3 separate regions of the Homo sapiens genome follow, and regions 2 and 3 are each linked to region 1. Evidence: fine-mapped expression QTL. A gene starts in region 1. Each other region holds a variant in brackets. All regions are shown on one strand. Distances are from middle to middle.

Region 1 (8,176 bases):
AGTACAATGTAGGTGCTTAATAAATACTGGCTGAATGACTAATGGAATGAATGAACATAAAGCACTTAGGACAGAATTAGGCAGGCGGTAAACCCTCAATGAATGTTAGCTATTATTATTACTGTTAGTGATTCTTCAAAGTGAGGCTCCCATGTCCCTCCTCCTTGACTTCTGCAAGCTCATAATCACACCTTCCTTGTCCCCACCACACCCTGCCAATCTCTCAATTATAGTAAGGAGCACACCGCTCTTTAAATACCTGTATATCTTTTTCCATTTAGGCTGAACCAAATGAAATTGCCATTTCTTGTAAGTCAAAAAAAGTCACATACTGGCCGTTTCATGTGGTTTAACCTAGTAAGTTTCCCATAGCAGCCTGCAGACCCCCAGGAGGCACAGTTTGACCACAGAAGCAAAGTCACCTACTCCTGGCCCTTTAGACCAGGTGTGATTGCAAAGCACGTCCAATCTGTTCTGAAGGAGGCAAGGCATGGATTATAGACTTAAAACACAAGAAGATTCTGCTGAATTATTTTCTGGACCTCCTGAGATTTGGCAGAGAAGATAAAAACACACCAACTTCTAAAACGATCCAGCTTCTGGCCATTTTGAAATAGCAAAGGTTTAAGGCTGAAACCCCTCGGTGGGGAGCTAGCTACCTGCCTCTAAGGGGATTCATTTAATGAATCTCCTTCCAATCTCGGCTTTGCTACTGAGATTTGTTCACTCTAAGAGGTTGGCTGTCAGAGCTCAAACAAATTCAGCAACTGCTGAGTCTACCCCCATTTCACAGATGGAGAAAGTGAGGTCCAGAGAGGGGAACGGATCGGCCCAAGGTCACACAGTAGGGAAGAGGAAGACTTCAATCTGGAATCTATGTCTGCTGACTTTAGTCTCATGGTCTTTCTTCTGGATTAAACTGTTTCTATGCTGGCCAGACTCCGGTAATGTAAGCTTCAGTGCCACTATTTTTTAAGCTGTATTTGTCAAATGAAATGTTTATTAAGCCTCAGATAAAACTGAACACTTCTTCACTAGACGGCAACTCCTTTATTTTTTTTTTTTTTTGAGATGGAGTCTCGCTCTGTCGCCCAGGCTGGAGTGCAGTGGCACAATCTCGGCTCACTGCCACCTCTGCCTCCCGGGTTCAAGTGATTCTCCTGCCTCAGCCTCCCGAGTAGCTGGGATTACAGGCATGTGCCACCACACCCAGCTAATTTTTATATTTTTAGTACAGACAGGATTTCATCATGTTGCCCAGGCTGGTCTCAAACTCTAGACCTCAGGTGATCCGCCCACCTTGGCCTCCTAAAGTGCTAGGATTACAGGCATGAGCCACTGTGCCTGGCCAGAAGACAACTTCTTACAAATAACAGCACTACATATGTCTCTCTCCCTAGTTACTTCCTTAGGATAAAGTCCCCAAAGTAGCCGGCTAAGGGCAAAGGGCAAATATGATCATTTTCATGATAACAGGCTGCCAGGTTGCTCTGCAAAATTAAATGCCACAGGCGAATCCCTATAGCCTTGCCAGCACAGAGTTTCATCTTTTTATTTTTATTTTTGCTAATTTTACAGGAATAAATACAGACTGCTTTCATTTATTATATGTTATGTGTTTTTTTGGAGAAAAAAAGGCACTCCAATCTTGGAATCAGGATCCCTGGGCTCGGTTGCTGGTTTGCTGTGTGACCTTTGCCCAGTCACATCCCCTCTGGCGACAGGGGATGCCTATCTGTAAAATGAGGGGGTTGAATGAGACGACGTCTGAAGGCTCCTTTCAGCTCAGACATTCCATGATTCCATGGTGCATTTAAAAAGTATTAGCAATTAAAGTCATAGCATGACTTTTTAATAACCAGAATCTGCCATGCTCCTAAATCAGGCCAAAAAGGCTTGAATTAGGCAAGCAGGAAAACAGGGCCCAGATTATACATGTGTCGAGATGACAGGAGACCCAGGTAGCACTTAAGCCTGTGCGTCGGAGCTGGGCTCATGGGCCAGCACATATACTTTGCCTGCTTTTACGAGGGGATAATAACACTCATTTGTGGTCCAGCTCCCAGTCCTGTGCAGCTCCACCATGGCCGCAGGGCAAGGTCATAGGCACTACTTCAGCCCTAGAATTCCATAGACTTTCAGTCCAAGGTAGCTCACCCCCAGGTTCTGCTTGAATACCTGTGATGACAAAGAGCTCACTACCTGTCCAGGGGCCTCCTGCCCTCTTTTGGCTGTTAAGAAAATCCCTGGGTGCAGGGCAGGTCATGAAGGGGACAAGAAAGACCAGGAGGCTGAGAAGTGATTCCTAGAAACTGCTCCCTCAAACAGGGCAGGCATCAGGGAGGTGGAGAAGAGGCCCCATGGGGCAGGAAAGGCCTGCAGAGGGGCTCCGGCTCTCCTCACTCCGGACCTCTCAGACGGTCCCCAGGAGGGGCAGGAAGCTGGGGAGACACATTCCAGTCCTGATGCACAGGTGGGTTCTGAACAAGCCCCAGGAAAGCGGAGGCCCCACAGCCTGCTCCAGGGCAGACACCTCGGCTCCCTCTTCTTGCCTTGGCTCCCTGGGATCTGATGGGAGAAACTGCTGGGCCTGGGGCTGCTGGGTCTGGAGATGAGCATATTTAAGGGACCTGACCACTGCCCCAGGGTGAGGGAGGAAGGGTCAGAGGTTGTTTGTGTGTCCAGAGCAGGACCAGCAGGAGAGGCAGTGACTGGGTAGCAGATTCCAGCTTGGTTTACAACTAGTGAGATTCCTATCACAAGGAGTGTGCAAGGGGGCAGCAAGACCTTCCAGAGGGGATCTTACAGAGGGGCTGGGCCAGATGCCATAGGTCTTCTTTACCTAGGGAGCCTGGGACCACAGTCCCTCAGACCTGTGCTCTGCCCCATCCCTTAATGCCACGCGGACACAGCACCTTGGCACTGTCACCCCTCTGAGGTCCAGGCGTGGCCGCCAGTCACCCCTTGTCACACCAGCTAGTGTGTGTCACACCTTATCACACACTAGCTCTGGGACACAGAGCTAGGCACCAGCACCTGGCCCGGGTGGGGAAGGGGAAGGAGCTATCCTATACCACTCTCTAAATCGAGGTGCCTACGTGGGGCTGGTCCAGGCAGTCGTGCCGCCAGGAGTCCAGCCACCTCCAACCTAGGGCTCCTCCAGCCCCAGACGAGTAAACCCTCTTGGCGGGCCGGCTGATGCCCCACATGCACGCCCAGGCCGGCTTGGCGGGGACCCGGGGATGCCCCCCACCCCACCGTTTCCTGTACCAGGAAGCTGAGGCCCAGCAGGTAACGCAGCCAAGAGGGGGAGGGTCCCGACAAGAGTCCCATGGAGCACCCGGGCCACAGCAGGGGCCTGTCGGGACCGGCTGGCCGCGCCCAGAGTGAGCTTCCCTCACCGCGGGCAGGAGGGGTGGGCGGTGCAGACAGTGCTCATGAGGGCAGCGAGCCGTCGGGAGCCCGGACCTCGAGGCGGCCCCTCCCAACAACCCCGCGAGAAGGGGGCCACCAATGAGCAAGCTATCCTGACGGGGAAACTGAGGCCTGGAGAGGAGCAGTGCTTTGTGCAAGGTCACGCAAAGGGGCTGAAAGCCAGGTCCCCCGCGCTCCGAGCCCCGCATCCCTCCCTCTCCGGGAGCTGCAGCCGCAGCGCGCACGTCCCGCCCGACGCCCCCATCGCGCAGACCGGGAAGGCACGGCCGGCGGCGCAGGGCCGCCCTACCTTGATGACTGCCGCGCAGGTGGCGGTGGCGGCGGCGGCGTCCAGCTCCGGCTCCGCGCTCCTCGCCGCCCGCCGACTCCCGGCGCCCAGAGCCGCCGCCGCCTCCCCCTGCAGCCCGGCGGGCGGGGCCGGAGGGCGGGGCGGGGGCCTGGCCCAAGGTCCGCCCTTTTGCCCGCCCCGCGGGTCCGCCCTGGCCACCCTTTTCCGCCCCCACGACCCCGACCGCGCTCCTGGCTCCCCGGGGCGGGTCTCGGGGCGCGCACACGTGCTGGGAACAGGCGCGCACACGCCGCAGTGATTGGGGCGGGCTGCCGGCCACCAGGCGGAGGCTGGGGACAGGCAGAGCCGCGGGCCCCACGTCGCGCCGTGCCCTCGCTGCGTGGTGTGGGATGAGGAACCTGACCTCCCGGAGCCTCAGTTTCCCCCGTTGTGAAATGGAGACAGTAACCGCGTCGGCCTCTTAAGGCTGTTTGAGCCCTGGATGTGACGATCCCGGCCGGGTACAGTGCGCGCGCCGAGCCCGGCCAGGGAAGCGCTCCTTTCCCCGAGCAGTTACAGCGGTTACCGAGGCTTCCCCGTCCGCAGGGAGGAGAGGAGCCGGGAGCGCCGCTGGGAACCGAGGAGGACGCCCTTCCTTCTCTCGGGACCAGCCGGGGGCGCTGCTGCCAGCCTCGCTGGCTGGAGAGCCCTGAGGACACTAGACAATGGGGAGGCCCTACCTTTGGGTACCACCCCCACCTAACACTACTGAGCCACGCACTCCTCTAAGCGCCTTCTGTGCATTACCTCGCTTCACTGTCACACAGGCCTATGAGGTTGATACCATTACTCACCTATTTAACACAAAAGAGCTGAGGCACAGAGATATTAAGTACCTAGGTTAAGATCACCCGGCTAGTCATGCAACCCCAGGCAGTATGGCTCCCACGGCTACTAAGCTAACAGCCACTCCACTCCACACCACGTCTGTGAAGAGCTCTTGGTTTTGTTCAGTAGAGACGGGTTATCTTGAGGGCCTTGAACTGCTCCGTGGCACATAGTAACCACTCAATATATAGTTGTGGAGTGGATAACAGAGTACACTGTTACTACTTTACATATCTGTATCGTTTCTTCTAAGCTTCTAATAATAGTGGCTTTATTTAGCCACTATTATTACCTCCATTTTACAGATAAGAAAACTGAGGCTTGGAGTGGCAAGGTACTTAGGGAGCTCTTGATTCTCTCCTTAGAATGTGACTCAGCTTCCATAGTCCACTGTACCACCCCCCTGCCCAGAGCTGGACGGGCTCCCTGCCTACCACCCAAAGCCCAGTGTGCACTATGGTCCTGAAAACCCCATCCTACAGCTCTGATTCAGACCTTCTGGAGCTGGATTGCCCAGCAGGTAGACTGAACGCATGCTTCTGGTGTTAGCGTGCAAGAGTTGGGTATCAAGCATATGGATGGCTGGGCGCAGTGGCTCATGCTTGTAATCCCAGCACTTTGGGAGGCCAAGGCAGGTGGATTGCTTGAGCTCAAGAGTTCAAGACCAGCCTGGCCAACATGGTGAAAACCTGTCTCTACTAAAAATACAAAAATTAGCCGGGCGTGGTGGCATGTGCCTATAGTTCCAGCTACTTGGGAAGCTGAGGCAGGATAATCACTTGAACCTAGGAGGTGGAGGTGGCAGTGAGCCGAGATCACATCACTGCACTCCAGCCTGGGCTACAGAGTGGGACTCTGTCTCAAACAAACAAACAAACAAACAAACATATGGATGAAATCAGAACATTGTGGGAATTCTTTATAATCATGGTTTGGTTTTTACTTGAATTACAGCTGGACGGTGGGCACCATGATCTTTCCCAGGCTAAGGCATCTGAATAACTTTGTTGTTGTTGTTTTTGCATGGTTTTGTTCTGTCGCCCAGGCTGGAGTGCAGTGGCACAATCCTAGCTTGCTGCAGCCTCCACCACACAAGCTCAAGCAATCCTCCCACCTCAGCCTCCCGAATGGCTAGAACTACAGGTGCGTGCCACCATGCCCAGCCAATTTTTATATTTTTTGTAGAGATAGGGTTTCGCCACGTTGCTCAGGCTGGTCTCCAACTCCTGGGCTCAAGCAATCTGCCTGCCTTGGCCTCCCAAAGTGCTGGGATTACAGGTGCGTGCCACCACGCCTGGCCTTGAATGTCTTAATTCACTTAGGGCTTGGGCCAGCATCTCTGGTGTGGCTTTCTACCTCTGCCAATGCCACTCGCCTTGCACTCTGACATCTCTGAGCCTTTGCTCTGTCTGCAGTTCTCTTCCCAAATCATCATCTCCCTTGTCTAAACCCACTCATCCTTCCAGGCCTAGCCTTCCTAGATGTCCTATGGATGTGCCCTCCAAGGCTTGCACCTGCATCTTCCTACCCTGTGCCATGGTGGTTGGTGGCTGGGACTGTTTGGGGAACAGCTGGTTTGACAGAGACATCTCTGGGGGCTGTGGGCATATGGACCCATAAGCCAGAGGGAGACCTCTGCAATGAACCTGGGACCCTTCCTGGGGTTGCTGTGGCTGGGGAGTGTCCTCCTCTCTTGCCCCTTCCCTCCCTCTAATCCTGGTCCAGATGCAGGATTGCACACATGGGGAAACTGAGGCCACAGTGGGCATGACCTACGCAGGATCCCCTAGCTAGAAAACCACATAGCAGATCTGGTTCCAAAGTTGGGCCCATCTCCTGGCATCTTCTATTAGGCCTTAGTGTGGATTGGGATGGGCCAGGAAACCTCCCTCTTCCTTCCCAGTGCACCCACATGGCTGGCTTTGTTAATCTTCCATATGTGGGTAAACATCTTGTGCAGGACCAGAACATATGTGTGTGTGTGGTGGGGGTGGGGGGCAAGTTCTCCATCTATCTGCCCCACATGGAACTTTCTGTACGATATGGCCCCATGTCCATGGGGGAGGGGGTTGAGAAAGAATGAGGAGACAGTGCCTGGGGGTTGGGGAGGGGTCTGTGTTTGGAGGATAGTAGCCTTGAACACGGGCAATCTCTGGAAGTGAGTGAGCACCTCTTATGTTAGGGGTTGTTGGGAGGGGGGCCTTCCACCTCCTTTGACCCAGTCCCTTTATTCTTAGGGATGTTGCCCCAGGGAGGTTCCCTGGGTAATTCCCTTTTCCTCTCCTTTAGAGCAGGTCGGACCACAGCTTGCTGGGGGCCTAAGGCCTGGGGAAGGCATGCTTTGAGCATGAGGTCCTGTCCCCTAGGGTGGGAAGGTGGGGCTGAGAGGGATCGGATCCTCCAGCCCTGGAAGGCAGCAGCCCCAGGGGAAGGGGGCAACAGCTGTGGTGCGGGCCAGGAACCTGACACCAGGAGTGGGCCCCAAACACCCTCCAGAAAGAGCAGGGAAGGGCAAGCAGGCGCCCCAGGGGCAGCAACAGCAGGCACAGATGCTCTGGGGTGGGCCCACCAGTCCCTGCTCAGCCTCCTTGCCATGTGGGTATCATGCTTCTCTTGTTGTCTCTGATGAAGGGGAGAAATAGTGCTACAATCCCAGCGTGAGGCAACCATGAGGAAATTCTTCCTCTAGTTTTCCTTGGCTTAGAACTATCTTCTGAGGGTATCCCCAGGAGGCCACAGGCCAGGCATGCCCCTTCCCTAGGTCCTTGGGGAAGGTGTTCTAGGTTCCACAGGTGGGTTAAGCTGGGGGAGTCCTCCCTGGCTTTGCAGTAAGGGCTCTAGGCTTGAGCATGGCTCAACCAGTGGCTGTGTCACTTTGGATAGGTTAGCTAATGTCTCTGAGCCCTGTCTACTCGTTGGTAACCTGAGCTTGGCCTGGGTGAGTTGATGCTGCAGGACAAGCAGTTCTCAATCCCAGCTCCCTGTCAGGGCCTGAGGAGGCAGTTAGCCCTGTGTCCCGTGTCCTGTGTCCCCAACCCTTCCATGTATCAGAATGCCTGGGCTCCACCACAGGCTCCAGGCATAGGACCCTAGCACCAACATTTTTAAAAAACTACTCAGGTGATTCTTTTTTTTTTTTTTTTTTTTGTGACAGAGTTTCGCTCTTGTTGCCCAAGCTGGAATGCAATGGCACGACCTCAGCTCCACGCAACCGCCACCTCCCAGGTTCAAGTGATTCTCCTGCCTCAGCCTCCCGAGTAGCTGGGATTACAGGTGCCCACCACCATGCCTGGCTAATTTTTTGTATGTTTAGTAGAGACAGGGTTTCACCATGTTGGCCAGGCTGGTCTTGAACTCCTGGCCTCAAGTGATCCACCCGCCTTGGCCTCCCAAAGTCCTGGGATTACCAGCGTGAGCCACGGCGCCTGGCCTACTCAGGTGATTCTCAGGTGCAGCCAGGTAGGAACCAGAGGTTACATTATGCTGGGTCAAATACAAAGTACCACCCACCCCTCTCCACAGGAGGGGAGGGAAAGAGCACAGACACTCAGCTCTGAGCAGAGCTTCTCCTCTGCCTGGGGTTGG
Region 2 (8,176 bases), 31 kb after region 1:
TCGTGTGGCTTAATTATGAGGATACACTCTGAGAAATGCGTCATTAGGTGATTTCACTGTTGTGCAAACATTGTAGACTGGACGCAGACAAACCTAGGTGATTTAGCCTACTACGCACCCAGCTAGATGGTGTAGCCTATTGCTCCGAGGCTGCAGACCTGTGCACCTGTTACGGTACTGAATACCATAGGTGGCTGTCACATAATGGCATTTGTGTATCTAAACACATGTAAACATAGAAAAGGTAGCATGTTGTGCTATGATGTTATGACGGCTATGATGTCACTATGTGACAGGGATTTTTCTGCTTCATTGTAATCTTATGGGACCATCACATATGCAGCCTGTTATATGGCATCTGACTGTACATATGTGGTTGTGAGTGGCAGGGTTTGGGGCAGGACGAACTCTGGTTGTATGGCTCCCTTTACGGACAGTGGAGGCTATGAGTGCACTCCACAGCCACAGGCCTCCCAGTGGGACAGTTCCTGTCACAACCCTTTAGAGAGGAGGCTGCGGGTCACGGCAGGCAACACACTTCACATAAAGTTCCTACCTCCTGTGACATCACTGGTCCCTGTGGGGTGGGGAAGCCTAGGGAAAGATAGGGACAGAGAAGGGGAAGGAAGGGGAGGAAAGGAGGAGCAGGGATGGTGGCAGCAGCTAGAAGCGGCAGCTGAGCAGACAGACCAGACCGCAGACATGAGCTCCAGCCCAGCTCCAGCTCCTCCACTTCTTCAGCACATGACCCTGGGCAGGCTCCTTAACCTTTCTCAGCCTCAGCATTCCACATCTGTAAAGGGGGAGCACACCAGCGGCTGCCTCACCTCACAGGGCTGGCGCGAGGACTAAATGTGGCGATGCACCCACCGAGGGCAGTGCCTGGCACACAGGAAACACCCTATAAATTCTACAGATGGGAGCAGTGACTATTGGCAGCTGCAGGTCATCCGTACAGTGTGCAGGCGCAGGACTGTGGGGGGAGGGTCGTGCTGGCCCCTTAGGGCTCTCGGGTGCACTGGGATGGCACTAAGGGAGGTTGACCAGGCCAGGCCCCACACTTAGCTAGTCAGGCTTTCATCTCTCATTTGATAATCTAGAGGCACCTTCACTTTTCAGTAGCCCAGGATACCAGGGCTACTGGTTAATGGGTCAATCAAGGCCCAGGCAAACTGCACTGGGCCTTGTGGTAAAGAAAGTGAAGAAGCGTAGAGCAATATTCCCATCAACATGTGTTTCTAATGTGAATATTCTAGGATGAAGGGGTATCCCCACTCCACCTAGCAAACCCTTAGGGGTGGAGAGCGCACCTTCCCTGAGGGCTGGGACAGAGGACCGGCAGGACTGGCAGGCCCTGAGGGGAGGCCCCTACCTTCAGGTGCTCTATCTTCCCCTGCTGGCTCAGGAAGTCCCTGTTGGCAGCGTCGGGGCGCAAAGGAGACTGGTCAGGGGGGTGCGTGAAGTCCTGGGTGACCTTCTCAGAGAGCTTGCAGATGACCTGCTGCTTGGCGTGGTTCTTGTCCATAAGCAGCTGCACGTGCTGCTGTAGCTCCTGCACCTGCTGCTCCCGCAGGCTCGCTGTGTGCGCCAGGCTCTCCCGCTCCTGCTCCAGGGCCTCCACCCGCCGGCCCAGCTCCGCGATCTGCCGCACTTTGTGCCGCACCAGCTCCAGCCGGTCCTTGTCCTCAGCCGCCGCCAGGTATGCGCTGGACGCCCGCTTCTCCTGCTGGGCGGCCTCCAGTGCCTTGTGCAGGATCTTCACTAGCTCCTGGGCAGGGAGAGGGAAGAATCTTGTGAGCTCAGGGAGGGCCTGCTGGGCGCCACAGTGGGGTATATGTTATCAGTAGTTCTCCTAACAACCGTGAGAGGTGCCCAGCAGCATCCCTGCGGCATCTCATCCTGACACTCACTTTCTCCTTCTCTGTTCAAGTGACTGTTAGCTGGGCACATGGTTCCCCAGCTTAAAACTGCATCTCCCAGCCAAGCCATGGTGAGGTGTAGCCAAGTAACTATTCTGCCTAAATGGGAAATGAAAAGTGAGATGGGCAGCTTCTGGGTCCTACCTTTAAAACCACTAGATACACGCTCCTCTGGTCCAGTTCTCTTTGCTTCTGGCTGGGAAGTGGCAGGAACTAGAGTGGCCGCCTCAGACCCACAGCAGAAGGTACATGTTGAGAAAGGGCTGCCCCCCAGCTCAGAGTTGCTCACCTACCTCTGGGTTCTTTAATGTGAATGAGAAACCTCTCACTCGTTTTGGGCCACAGTGCTTTGAAACTTTTTTTTTTTGAGATAGCGTCTCCCTCTGTTACCCAGCCTGGAGTGCAGTGGCACAGACATGGCTCACTGTAGCCTCAATCTCCTGGGCTCAGCTGATCCTCCCACCTTAGCCTCTCAAGTAGCTGGGACCACAGGAACATGCCAACACACCAGGCTAATATTTGTATTTTTTTGTAGAGAAGGGGTTTTGCCATGTTGCCGGGCTGGTCTCAAACTCCTGGACTCAAATGATCTGCCCACCTTGGCCTTCCAAAGTGCTGGGATTACAGGTATGAGTCACCACACCCAGTGGAGATGTTTTTGTCACAGCAGCTGAACCCATACCCTGACATATACACATCCATTTCAGGGATGAACAAACTGAGGCCCAGCAGAGAGTAGAATGGAATTCAATCTCAATTGGCTAGATTCCAAAGCCTGTGCTCAGTAACTAAGAAAACCAGGGGTGGCAGCTATGTGGCATTACTCTTCCCTCTCATCCCTGTGGCAGACATCACTAATTAATCTCCCATACTTCTTCCTGCACAGCCTACCCTAGTTGAGGCCTCAGAATCATTCTCAATATAGCAGCCAGTCACTACCAATCAAGTTGAGTCAGGGTTAAAGAGGAAATACACTGGCAATCCCCATGTAAAGCCACACACAGAGGACCTCATTCAAGCCATTTGTGCCTAGTTACCTTCAGCCCACCAGCCGATGCCTGCAAAGCTGGTGGAAGGAACTCTAGAAAGTTCAGAAACAATAGAGCTTGATTTATTCCTCAGCAGGGGCAACTAATTCACACAGGAACTCAAGGTCTGCTCAGCTCCCTGTGCCTTTAAGCCTGTAATTTCCCCAGGGAGGGCCACGCCTGGACTCAGGCCTATCTGTCCCAAAGCAGGGATGTGAATTTGTTCTGGGCCAGGATCAGGACATCAGCAGCCAGGTCCACGTGGAACTAATACCAGGTAGGTATGACTTTCAGGCAACACTGCCCTGCTCTGTGCTTCTCATTTGGAAAAACATGGTTTCCTAGAGACATGTCAACTATACCACACCAAAGTATTAAAATGAGTGGATTGGCTGGATAGCCTTATTTGCTAAGAACAATTCTATATTGGAGGAAAACTGCCAAAAACCATGACTTTTTTGGAGAAGCTAATGACAAGACCACATTAGCCTGCATCTTCTGAAACCTTAGGACTAGTGACCATCCTTTCTCTGGTTCTCTCTTTTCCTTCCACATGCCCATCCATCCATCCAACCTTTACCAAGCACCACTCGGTGCCAGGCCAGGCCCTGAGCCAGGTGCC[G/A]TGGCCCAGAGAGGGAGTGGTGAGAGTTCCCACCTCCAAGGACTGCAAAGGCTGGTGGGAATGAACATGACCCACCACAGTGGAATGATCTACTGCAAGTCAGGGGAACAAGGGTGTTTGTGGGAAAGGCAATGACTTCTGTCTGGGGTGGAGGTTGTGGGGAATACCAGTCCAGAGCATTTAAAAGAAACTGTGAAGAATGAGAAGGGCCAGAGATGGTCGAGCAGCAGGTGGGAGATGAGGGTGGGGATGGCCCTCCAGATGTGGCCAAGCTACAGCCCCAGTAAAGACCTGGAGGAAGGAAAGAGCTACCATGGAGCTGTGGGAGCCCTGGGGTGTGGCAGGAAGTTGGGGTGAGGACAGCACAGTGATTGCAAACCAAAAGGGAATGTTTGGAACGTCCAGAATGAAGAAGTCAGCTTCTCAGGGCTCAGTGGAGAGAGATTAACATTCCTGTGGTTCCAGGAAAACTGGGGGCCTAGGCCATTTTCTGCTTCAGCTGAGATTTGGAGGTTACCTTGGATGACTGCCCAGGGAAATAACCAACAGACATCATTGTTCAGACTTGCCCTAGGAGCAGGACCAGTGGGTGTCTTTCCCTCAATTTGGGGAGTTAGTTGACTCTGAAGCTTATTTCATTACATCTAGCTGTCTCCTTCCCGCATTTGGCTCCCAGAATCTAAGACTGAGACACCAGCCCAGGAGGCTCTCCTCCCACCCCCAGAATTCTTGTACCAGAATAAAATAGGCTTAAAAGAACGGAACCAGGGCAGAGGGAGGGAGCCTCAGTAGGACTTGTAAGATGAGGAGTGAGAATGTCATGAATTCAAGAAACCTAAAGTCTGGATTATAAGCAATGTCTTAGGACCAATTCTTAAAAATAGGTTGGGCCGGGCGTGGTGGCTCACGCCTGTAATCCCAGCACTTTGGGAGGCCAAGGCGGTCGGATCACGAGGTCAGGAGATCGAGACCATCCTGGCTAACATGGTGAAACCCCGTCTCTACTAAAAATACAAAAAAATTAGCCAGGCGTGGTGGCGGGTGCCTGTAGTCCCAGCTACTCAGGAGGCTGAGGCAGAATGGTGTGAACCCGGGAGGCGGAGCTGGCAGTGAGCTGAGATCGCACCACTGCACTCTAGCCTGGGCGACAGAGCGAGACTCCATCTCAAAAAAAAAAAAAAGAAAAGAAAAGAAAAGAAAAATAGAGGGGTTGATGAAATTAAGCTTTTTGAAGTGTTTTTTTTTCTTTTCTTTTTTTTTTTTTTTTTTTTGAGACAGGGTCTCACTCTGTTGCCCAGGCTGGAGTGCAGTGGCGCAATCACGGCCCACCGCAGCCTCAACCTCCTGGGCTCAAGAGATTCTCTTGCCTCAGTCTCCCTTGTAGCTGGGACTACAGGCATGCACCACATTGCCCAGCTAATTATTTTATTTTCTGTAGAGACAGGGTCTCCCTATGTTGTTCGGGGTGGTCTTGAACTCTTGGGCTCAAGAGATCCTCCCACCTTGGCCTCCCAAAGTGTTGGGGTTATAGGTGTGAGCCACCATGCCCGGCCCAAGTGGTACTTTTAATATTTCTCAATCGAGTTGTTTGGTTCATCTCAGATTTTGATACGTGGTCATAAGTTGTCACTTTATTTAAATTTTTAAAAGCCAATAAATCATCTTTAAAAAATAATCCTTTATCTTTTTAGAGCATTGCTACTTTCATCAGTGGTGGGCCCTACAGGGGTCAGATGAAGGGGCATGGGCTTTGGAGTTGCACAGGCCTCGGTTCCCATTCTGGATCCGTGGGGGGTGTATCTAACGAGGTGACTCTAAGGAGGGTAGCTCAGGTGGCCTCTTCATTGAACCTCAGCTTTCTCATGAATGGGGCTAAAGCTTCCTCTTCTGCTCAGAACTGCCTCTAGCATGAAAGAGAAAGTGCCAAGTGTCCCTCCCCAAGCTGACATGGCCAAGGTACCTCCCAGCCCTCTTTCATGTCCTCTGAAGTTTTTGGCTGGAGTTCTAGGAAAGTAAGAGGCTATACGTTGCCCCACTGAGTTTCCTAAAAAATTACGTTCCTTTACCCAGTAATCCTGATTGAACTAAGGTGGCCCCAGAGGGCCGCAGGCAGGGTCCCAGAGGGGTTCATCATTCCCAGCCGCCAACAGATGGCCAACATCACCACAGACAACAGCCTTCCATCTGCCAGAGCAGACGGCCTTCAGGCTGGGTGGAGTTCTGTCAACTCCAAGGGTCAGTCCCCGGCCAATCAGCCATCTGGTGCTATCTCCTAGAGCCCAAACCTCTTGTGGGGCCAGTGCTGCAGGTATGGGGACAGATAATGGCTTAATGGGTATTGAAGTCAACCTGTGGTTTAATATGACACCAGGGGGTACACAGGGAGTGCATTCATTTTTTCTCAAGAGCAGTTTTGGTGCTTGTGTCTCATAGTGGGCCTCACCATGAGACTATGGAAGAGAGGAGGCAGCCCAGCCTCTAGACTTGGAGAAGGAGGTTAGGGCCCCAATCCTGGCTTTTCCAGCTGCCTGCGCATGGGCAAGTCACCCAACTCCTCTGAGCTCCTCAAATGCTGGCTTAGCCCCTGGGAGACCCTGAGCATGCAGACACTCTGAGAACCTCAGTTTCCCTTTCAGAGTAAGGGGATGAAAACTATTGTAAGGACAGAGATAACACATGGGAAGGCTCAGCACAGTCCTGGGGCCGCGCTTCATACCAGCAGTTCCCATGCTCACATCTTCTCTTCCCCACTAGATGGTGAGGTGCCCAAGGGCAGGGATTTGTCTGCAATGTGCTCTCAAGAGCATCTCGCAGTGTTTGAGATAGAAATTCCTAAAGAGTCACGAAAGCCACTGGCAATGGCCAGATCAGCTAGGATAAGACCCCAAATTCCCATGTCCTCCTGAAGTTTGAGGTAGACAGGAGGTGCCTTCCCACTAAAGAAACACAGGAAGGTACCTCGCAGGGGTAGCTCCTGGGATTCCAGGTGCCCATCTTCCCAGCTGATGAATGGGACTCTAATGAGGGTCTCAGATGGACAGCGGCTCTCCTAGCGGCATTCTGAGTGCCTGGGGGCACCACTGGGCACCCAGAAGTTGTGCTGGCTTTTTCTGTCTCACCTCTTTGGTTTCAGTATCTGGGCTACAGGTGAAACCCTAGAGTTACGGGGCTGCCATTCCTCCCTTCCTAATGTGGAATGAAGACCTAAGCTCCCTGATCACTGCTATGGCCCCACGGCACATTTCCTGAAGGCACTGATGGGCTCTCACTTCCCGCCTCGTCTCTGAGCCCCTCAGCAGGGCACCTCACTGCTTGTAGGGCAGGAAGAGATTGACATGGAGGGTAAGGAGGGCTGCAGTAATCGCCAGAACAACCAGAGCCTGCATCTGTTGGGCAGCTGCTGGGTGCCAGGTACTGGGCTTTATGAATCTGGGCACAGGTCTCTCCAGTAAACACGGCTGCAACTCCATTTACAGAAGAGGAAACTGAGGCTTAGATAGGTTAAGAAACTTGCTTAGGGCCAGAATTTGAGCCTGTGCTGTCTTATTTAAAGGCTGGTTCTTTGAATCACCCTGAAGACTGAAGTTCATTTGTGGAATGGGTTGGAGAGTAAACAAATCCACTCCTATTGCACAATAATTGGATAAACTAAATAAATCACAACTCATTCTCCTTTTGACCCTCTGTCCCAGGACACAAAGTCGAGGTTTGGTGGAAGGTTACCTGGTAGAAAAAAAATCCAGATTCTTCAATGCATCAACAACTTCCTCCTGACAATTTCCCTCTGAATATATGGGAGTTGTCAATAGCCTGGTCAACCCTTATTAATCTCCAAGAATCTTGCCTTTATTTATTGAAGAATGATGAGTCCTCCAGAGATGCAGAGCAATCAGGGGCAAACTTTCATGAAATCTAGGTTTCCTGGGGCCTTTCTACTTCATCTGACAATTTGTAATGTCTTAGAAAGAAAGGCTGTGTCAAGAGAGGCTGCCCGTATATTCAGGATTTCTTTTTCTTTCCAGGTTTGGGTTTCGGATTTAAGCTCTACTAGTCCAGGGATCAAGTAGCTGCTATGGCTCTGTTTCATGCCCTCTCAGCTCTCAGGAGCGTCCAGCAGCCTCAGAACTGGAGCACCATGATGACAGGAGGAAAAGACAGCTGGGCTGCTAAGCAGCAGCAGAGGGGACCTCACGTGTTATAACTACACATTTGGGTGTTGCTTTGTTTAATGTCTGTCTCTGCCATGAAATGCAAGCTGTAAGGGCAGAGCCTGTGTCTTTTGCTCATTGTTCTTTCCCAGCACCTGGAACACTGCATGCACATAACAGGCCCTTAATAAAAATTTGGTGAATAAACACATGAGTTAAGAACGTATGAATAAATGAGCCCCCTCCTTTGAGAACTCTAATGTCTAATCACCAGTTGCTTCACTAAATGTAACTCCTGGCCAGGCACGGTGGCTCACGCCTGTAATCCCAGCACTTTGGGAGGCTGAGGTGGGCAGATCACTTGAGGTCAGGAGTTCGAAACCAGCCTTGCCAACATGGTGAAACCTAGTCTCTAATAAAAATACTAAAAACAAAAACCAAAAAACAAAAAAAAATTAG
Region 3 (8,176 bases), 71 kb before region 1:
ATTCTTGGTAAACAATTTAGGAACTGCTTCTTCTTTTTTCCTTAAAAACTTATATGTAACTGCTGCTAATCAGAGTGGATAGTCACAGAAATTTGAATCTATGGTCCCAGTTGGCCATCCTCAAGCTTTAGGCTTGGATAAACTCTGTACTTAATCATATTTTCTGAATCTTATTACTTCAAGTTGACAGTAGGTAGTGGGTAGGGGGATGGACAAATGGATGGGTGAGACTCTTGAGCCAGATCTGTGGAAAGCAGCCTTGTTAATTCTGAATAACAGTTTTTCAAGGAGCCATTATTATAATTACAGCCATTTCATACGTTAAAAAAAGGAAGGGTCTGGTGGCAGGGACAGGTCTTGAGCCCACGACTCCACTGGATTGTCCCCCATGATCCCCTTTTCACCTTGGAGTTCCAAGGTTGTCACAGTGTGGTGGTCTGGAGTCATGCAGTACCGGAGAAAGGCTCACGATGGGGCTGAATTCATCACAGAAGACTTCTTGGAGACAAGTGGTAGGATCAACAGCTGTCAGACATGAGGGCCTACCTCACCCAGGCTTCATGAAACCCAGAGAGAGAGAAGGATTTGAGAGAAGCCACAGAAAAAGTCAGCTGGGAAGCTGGAGCAGGAGCCCAGAGCCCCTGGGGCACTGTTAGGATTATGCATGGGTAAGGGTTCCACGGTGACAATGGCCCTGTTGGGGGCATCTGGCTAATGGAGTCCTGGGTTCAAGGCCTGCCCCTGCCTCCAGAGCCTTCCTCTTGTGGCCTATAAAATGGCTGTAATAATAATGGCTCACCCAGGGCTGCTATGAGCAGGAATGGGAGTGTCTGTGTGGCCGGGGAGGGGAGAGGAGGTAGGTAGTGACAGCTGAGGCTGCTCCCAGGGCAGTCAGGCCGTCCTCAGCTCAAAGTTCACAGGCCCTTTCTGTGGACTGCAGATTAAGTAAACCTGAGATGTCTGTGTGGCTTTCTGAGCTACACAGGGCTGTTTATTAAGAGGGAGAGTTTGTACCTCTGTTAACTAAAAGGCAGACTGTCTTCCAGCCCAATGGCAGTGTGGCGGATCGGCCATGGTGGACACGGTCAAGGACATCTGGGTACCAGCCTGGGCTCCCAACCTCTCACTCCTAAACCCACCTTTTCTGAAGCTCAACTGATGGCTTTGGCTCGCCTTTGCCCTTCCTTGGGTCTCAGGCTCCCGCTCTGAACTTTCGGTCGACCGCTTAGACGCCCTCTGGGGCACCTTTGGTTTCCAGGTTGTAACCCGCCACTGGCCACGGCCAGGCACGCCCCCTCCTCGGCCGTTATGCCTGGGCTGGCTCCCCCAACTCCCGCGCGGCGAACCCCGTCCCCATCGTCCCCACCTGCACGTGCACCGCTGCCTCCAGCGCCAGGCCCACAGGGTGGCCACGGTGCGCGCCCAGCACCGGGCAAAGCGCGCACACGCAGCGGCGGCAGCGGCGACAGAAGAGCTCAGCCACGCGGTCGCCATGCTCCGGGCAGCGCCAGCCGCATCCCTCGACAAGCTCCGACCTCCCAGGGGTCCGGCTCCCGGTCGCCGCGCCCGCCATTCATCTCCACCTCCTCCGGCTCCCCGGGACACAGGGCGGGGCTCCCAAGGGAAACCGAAACCTCGGCCGTGGGCGGGGCGGCTCCAGGCCGGCCGGCCGACCCCTAGGAGGATGACAGCCCGCCGGGAGCAGCGTCGGGCCTCGGAGCATCCTCCGACCAGCAGGGTGCTCCCTCTGCCCGCCCAGGCCGGGAGGTGGTCCCACCAGAAATGGGAAGCTCCTAATGAGCCAGCTAGGAGAGGGTGGGCTTCCTGCTTAATGACGCTGTTCCAGTAACGCCCAGAAAACTGCAGCCCTGATGATGGGACCAAAGTTGGCTGTGACCTTCCGGGGGTGCTCCTCTCACTTTCCCTTGATCCTCTCTTGCCCTTTTCCCCGGAAAGATAATCATTCCCACAACTGTAAGATACCTTCATCAACCTCAAATAAGGACACAGAGATTCTCCAATTGAGTTTATTTCGGACTGAGCAGAAGGATTGCAATTCGGGAATAAATGTGCCATGGCACCCAAGGGGTGGGGACGCGGAGTACTCAGGGAGGCAAAGGAAAGCAGAGGCTTTTAAAGGCAAAACGAGGAGGATTGCATATACTGTTTTTTTTGTTTGTTTGTTTGTTTTTGTTTTTTTTTTTTTTTTTTTTTTTTGGAGACGGAGTCTCGGTCTGTCGCCCAGGCTGGAGTGCAGTGGCGCCATCTCTGCTCACTGCAAGCTCCGCCTCCCGGGTTCACGCCATTCTCCTGCTTCAGCCTCCCGAGTAGCTGGAACTACAGGCGCCCGCCACCACGCCCGGCTAATTTTTTGTATTTTTAGTAGAAAAGGGGTTTCACTGTTTTAGCCAGGATGGTCTCGATCTCCTGACCCCGTGATCTGCCCGCCTCGGCCTCCCAAAGTGCTGGGATTACAGGCGTGATCCACCGCGCCCGGCCAGATCGTTTTAAAATAATAATACTTGGTTACAAGAATTAATACAGGTGGCTTCAGTCCAAAAGTTGAACAGGCAGTTGCTGGGCAGATGTCCTCATATCATGGCTTTTGTGCAAGGTTGTGGTTCTTTGTGCAAGGTTGCAGTTTGGTGGAATCTTTTGCAATAATAGTTCCTGTTACCAGGCAAATCGTTGATGAGGGCCCCCCACTTCATGGCCTCCCAGCACCATTTAGTTTGTTTGAGACAGGATCTCGCTCTGTTGCCCAGGCTGGAGTGCAATAGTGCGATCATAGCTCACTGCAGCCTCTAACTCCTGGGCTCAAGTGATCTTCCCACCTCATCTCTGGAGTAGCTGGGACTACAGGAGCACCATTTAGTTTGGTTTTGATGTAAGTGACTCTGTTTTGGTACTGACAACTTTCACACACACACCACCACCCCAAATTCCAGTTGCCCCCCCAGGCTCAAGTCTAGACTTCCACTTATAAAGCCCTCAGCTCTTTCTTAAGATCCTTGGTCTCCGCCCTGCCTATGCTCCACCCTGTGCTTTTTCAAGACTGGGGGACGTGCAGTTTACCCTGCTTGGAACATTCTTCTTCCCAAATGCCCTTTGCCCTGAGTATTCCAACTTACTCTGCAGGTTTCTACCTTACTATCTTTTCCTCCAGGAAGCCTTCCCTCCTTCTCCTTCCAGAACAGCCTATGCTTTCCCT[A/T]TCCTGGCCCTCCCCATTCCCGCAGCCATGACTGAAAACTGGAGAGGGCAAAGACTGTCTGTTCTGCCTGTTTTCCAGCTTGGTGTCTGACTCCAAGAGTAGATAGTTAATTGGTATTTGTGGAACAAATCAAGAAAAGGAAAGCTCCTTGTAGTAAAATGGCCAGATGTTTATTATTTTGTTACATTATTTCCATTGCATATTCCACATCTATTTATTTTCACTTTTATTTATTATCATTATTTTTCACAAAGGTACAAGGAATTTCAGAAACAACATTAAAACAATCATTCAAACTGTTTCAGGCACGGTTTCAATTAAAAGCATAGATTTGATTTCTGACTTCCTGTTTCCTTCTATGATACAATCTCAAGTTTTGTTTCAGGAAGCACAATTATTGTAGCGTTAAGGTGGATACCTGCCAAAGCTCATCTCCTAGTGCTGTCCTCATTCTCAGAAAGTTCCTGAGTCAACAGAAAGGGGACGCCCAGGGTATGGAATAAGGAGATGAGAGCATGCTCTGCCAACTGGCTGGGACCTGAATGTGCTAGGCAAGTTCCACTACATCAGCTCAAGAACATAAACAAAAATGTAATTTAAAAAACAGATGGTTTAAAAAAATATCTGATAAAAATTACCTATCCCTCTCCCTTGCTGTGAAATAATTTAAATAATTTATTCTAGATGTAAAAATAATAATACAAAAAAGTTTGTTCAAAGACACCTGTGTCCTGTTTGTTAAGTGTGCAGTCTGGGTCCCTTGGGGTGGAGGGAGCTGGCCAAGGAATGGCATTGTGCAGAGGCATACCGGGAAGCTCTCTGGATGCAACCCCACCTCTACCGCTTGGCAGTCAATGACCTTGGCATGATGTTTCTTCACTTCTCTGAGGCTAGGTCTTTGATTCTGAACATGGGGACTGTAATGCCTGCCTGACCTGTGTTAGAACAGCATGTGTCACTGAGTGGAGGTGGGAGGAATTTGTAAACTGTGAAGTGCTAGCCACACAGGTGGGAAAGGTAAGCCTATCCTGTAGAGCTCTGCTGCCCTGACAATGCCTGGGATTTGGCCTTCTTTTCTGGAGCACACTAAGGCAATCTTGGCTAGTGCATCAGACGGGAGTGAGCCCCAGTGACTGAGTAAATGGAGAATAAGACAAGGAACACGAGCATCCGGCCTGTGCAGACATACAAGCAGAATAAACCACAGCTGGGTAAGGGGCAAACAGGGGCACTGAACCCCCATCGTGCTGCAGCTGCGGTTCCCAGAGATGTTGAGGGAGGGCTTGGGGCAACACTTCTGGACTTTTAAGGAGCCACCAGGCAGGACTTAAGAGATCTGGGTTGAGTCCCAGCTCCTGTCTGGAGCTTGCTGTCCTCTTCATCTTTATTGCAAATAGGTACACATGCAGTCTTCCATCTTCACTGTACTGCAGATCACCTGTGGAGCTTATATGACCATACAGGCCCTACTCTGGAGATTCAGCTTCAGTTGGTCTGGAATGTGGCATGGGCATCTGTATTTCCTGCACGCTCCCAAGGGAATTCTAATGTACACAGCTTGGGTTGAAACCTACCAGACTAGGTGGCCTCCTGCAGTCCCCACCTCAGCTCCAGAATCTAATCGCCCTGTGCAATGGAGATCATCTGCCCCTCCTTGGTAAGGAGGGACCAATTTCACTTCTAATCATTCCCAGTCTCTTGGTGGACTATTGTATTGACCACTGAACTTTAGAGTAGGGCTCGGAACACAGATTCACTAAGGAGGGACAAAGAAAAGCTTTCAGGCTAAAAGGGAACTTTGGGACCATCTGGTACTACTTCTTTACCTCGTATAGTCATTTCAGAAGACCTCCTGGTTAGGTGGCCAGAGGCTCTGCTGGCATGTCTCCAGTGATGGGGGCCCCCTACCTCCTGGGGGACTCTTCTGTTAACTAGGGCTGAAATCTGCCCACATCATCCTGCAGGAGGCAGGCTGTGTACCTGAGGGCCTTGGTGGTGGCAGTCAGCAGTCATGGGCACAGTTCTGAAGTCTGCGTCCCTCCATAAGGGACAGCATCTATCCATATCAGGCTGATTCTGGTTGGAAAGGTTGGTTTTGACCACCTGCCTGTGTTGTAGAATTGGGTTGAATGCCTCTGACCCCTTGCCAGTGTCCGTTAGTTTCTGTAGCAAACCCAGATCACCCCACAGGTAGTTTTCTCTTAGGTCAAGGTTTCAGGTGGCAGATCCTGCAGAGAGCAGCTTGTTCCAGGGTACCCCTGGTTCAGATGAAGAAACTGAGACCAGAGAGGGCAGGACTTGCAAGAGGTCACTGAGTAAGCTGGGGCACAGCTGAGGCCAGAAGCAACAGATTTCTACTCTTTGGGCTGAGAACTGCATCAGACCCAAAAGAGCAAAAAGACAGACCCAGAAAAGCAGGATCTCAGCCCAGCCCTGCCATGAAACAAATATCACTTGCCTCTCTCTAGGCCTTAGTTTCCCCAGCTGTAAAATGAGGAACTTGGGTCAAATCACTAGCTTTCAAACTTCTAAAAAAATTTTTTTTTCCTAGCAGAATTGTTTTTCATACTAGCCCAACATATAAAATAGAAGGGAGCTGTCTGGTTGGAATACAGTGTGGGGAAGGGAGACACAGCCTTCCTGCTTAGTCTTCCCCTATTCTCTCTCTCTTTTTTTTTTTTTTTTTGGAGATGGAGTCTCGCTCTGTCACCCAGGCTGCAGTGCAGTCCGCAATCGTGGCTCATAGCAACCTCCACCTCCCAGGTTCAAGCAATTCTCCTATCTCAGCCTCCCGAATAGCAGGGACTACAGACGCTCACCACCACGGCTGGCCAACTTTTTTTTTTTGAGACGGAGTCTCACTCTGTCACCCAGGCTGGAGTGAAGTGGCATGATCTTGGTTCACTGCAACCTCCGCCTCCCAGGCTCAAGCGATTCTCCTGCCTCAGCCTCCCAAATAGCTGGGATTACAGGCATGCACCACCATGCCTGGTTAATTTTTTATTTTTAGTGGAGACGGGGTTTCACCATGTTGGCCAGGCTGGTCTTGAACTCCTGACCTCAGAAGATCCGCCCAGCTTGGCCTCCCAAAGTTCTGGGATTATAGGCGTGAACCACCACGCCCTGCCTAATTTTTGTATTTTTAGTAGAGACGGGGTTTCACCATGTTGGCCAGGCTGGTTTCTTTCTTTTTTTTTTTTTTTTGAGACAGACTTTTGCTCTTATTGCCCAGGTTAGAGTGCAGTGGCACAATCTCAGCTCACTGCAACCCCCGCCTTCCGGTTTCAAGCAATTCTCCTGCCTCAGCCTCCCAAGTCGCTGGAATTACAGGCGCCTGCCACCACGCCCAGCTAATTTTTTTGTATTTTTAGTAGAGATGGGGTTTCACCATGTTGGTCAGGCTGGTCTCGAACTGCTGACCTCGTGATCCACCAGCCTCGGCCTCCCAACATGCTGGAATTACAGGCGTGAGCCACTGCGCCTGGTGAGACTGGTTTCAAACTCCCGACCTCAAGCAATCCGCCCACCTCAGCCTCCCAGAGTGCTGGGATTACAGGCATGAGCCACTGCGTCTGGCCCAGTCTTCCCCTATTCTCTGGACCACAGTTTGAAAATCACAGACAGGTCAACCTAGATCCTTCCAGCTCTAGTTTTCTACTGTGTTCTTTCCTCTTGAGAAGTTACAGCTCATCATGGGCCCTTAATAACAGAATTCAACAGAAGGCATCATCTGAAAACAAAGTCAATTCAGAAACTGTTGTTGCAAGAAGGCAAACAGAAAAACGGCACCATGTCCCACTGGAATCTCTTTCAGCGATGGAGAGTTTTGTTTTCTGGTAAAAAATATAGAAATAGTGGTTGTCCTTGAGGGGACTTGTGGTTTGGTTCTAAACCTCCCCATGGAGCCGAGTGGTGTCCCTGAGGGTGAGGAGGGCAGAGGTCTCTGCTCAGAGCTGCTCTGAGCCCATCCGCAAGTTTTTGATCTCCAGTTCCAACTGTTTGGCCTGGACCTCTCGCTGGGTCAACAGCTCCCGGAGCCTTCGGATCTCCTCCTGTTGCCGGTAGAACATCTGCAGCAACTGGGGAAGAAAGATCGGAAGGCAGGATCACCATGGTGTCAGGACACCAGCTGAAAGCTAAACCACTATCCCTCTTTGACTCAGAAAGGTGGAGGCGGTCACATTAACATGGCTGAGGCCTGATGGGGCTGTCACTGCATAGATCTTTTACAAACACCTTGTTTACTTCACCCAATAAATGAAATTCAAGAAGACTGGAATGTTTCAGATGTATTTTGCTTCCATAGATCCTCCATGAAATAGAGGAAAGGATGCCTGGCTCTGAAGTCTGGGGATTGGTGTTTTCGCCACCACTGAACTGTGTGACCTTGGGCAAGTTACTTACCCACTCTGAGCTTCCATTCCTTCCTCTGGAAAATGGGGTCAGAAAACTGCCCTCTGTGCAGAATGGGTGTTAGATATTGAGTGATGCCCTAAGGGCCTCGTTATCCCACTGGAACGTTGTGACACCCCTATAAGGGTGGCAGTGCTAGTGTCCCCACCGTACCACCGTGGAAACGGAAGCTTAGAGACATTCAGTCTCTGGGTCTAAGACCCTAAATTAGTACTCAGCAGAGCCAGGATCAGAATCCATCTGTGAGATGCCAGCCTCTGTGTTCTTAGCCACTACAGACTGACTTCCAGGGCTGTTGAGAGAATTCAATCACGTGCTGTATCAAAGTGCCTACCCCAGGATCTGCCACACAGTAGGCACTAAACAAATGTGGACTTTGAAAGCACAGAAAGTCCTATAATGTCAGAACTGGAAAGACTTTGATACCCACTAGGTCAAACCCTCTCCATTTTACAGATGGTTTCCCACCATTTTTTTTTTTTTTTTTTTTTTTTTTGAGACAGAGTCTCACTCTGTTGCCCAGGCTGGAGCGCAGTGGTGTGATCCTGGCTC

Evidence for each region. PIP is the estimated chance that this variant, and not a neighbour inherited with it, causes the effect.
Region 2: its variant is fine-mapped to the expression of CORO2A in fibroblasts (GTEx, PIP above 0.99).
Region 3: its variant is fine-mapped to the expression of CORO2A in whole blood (TOPMed, PIP above 0.99).

What each region holds. Positions count from the first base shown.
Region 1 is chr9:98,188,835-98,197,010 of GRCh38, forward strand. It overlaps CORO2A (coronin 2A), which reads right to left and starts at 3,803. Exons shown (of 12, transcript NM_052820.4): 1 at 3,725-3,803. RefSeq lists enhancers at 2,656-3,310, 6,547-7,063 and silencers at 3,463-3,512, 3,583-4,132.
Region 2 is chr9:98,219,461-98,227,636 of GRCh38, forward strand. It overlaps TBC1D2 (TBC1 domain family member 2), which reads right to left. Exons shown (of 13, transcript NM_001267571.2): 6 at 1,373-1,768. Among named protein-coding and RNA genes, the nearest start is that of MIR6854, 5.7 kb to the right of the region's middle. RefSeq lists an enhancer at 3,210-4,409. The variant G/A (reference allele first, on the strand shown) is at 3,570.
Region 3 is chr9:98,117,616-98,125,791 of GRCh38, forward strand. It overlaps TRIM14 (tripartite motif containing 14), which reads right to left and starts at 1,607. Exons shown (of 6, transcript NM_014788.4): 1 at 1,367-1,607. The coding sequence starts at 1,573. CORO2A (coronin 2A) reads right to left here. Exons shown (of 12, transcript NM_052820.4): 12 at 3,360-7,290. The coding sequence ends at 7,159. RefSeq lists an enhancer at 1,081-1,130 and a silencer at 1,441-1,540. The variant A/T (reference allele first, on the strand shown) is at 3,212.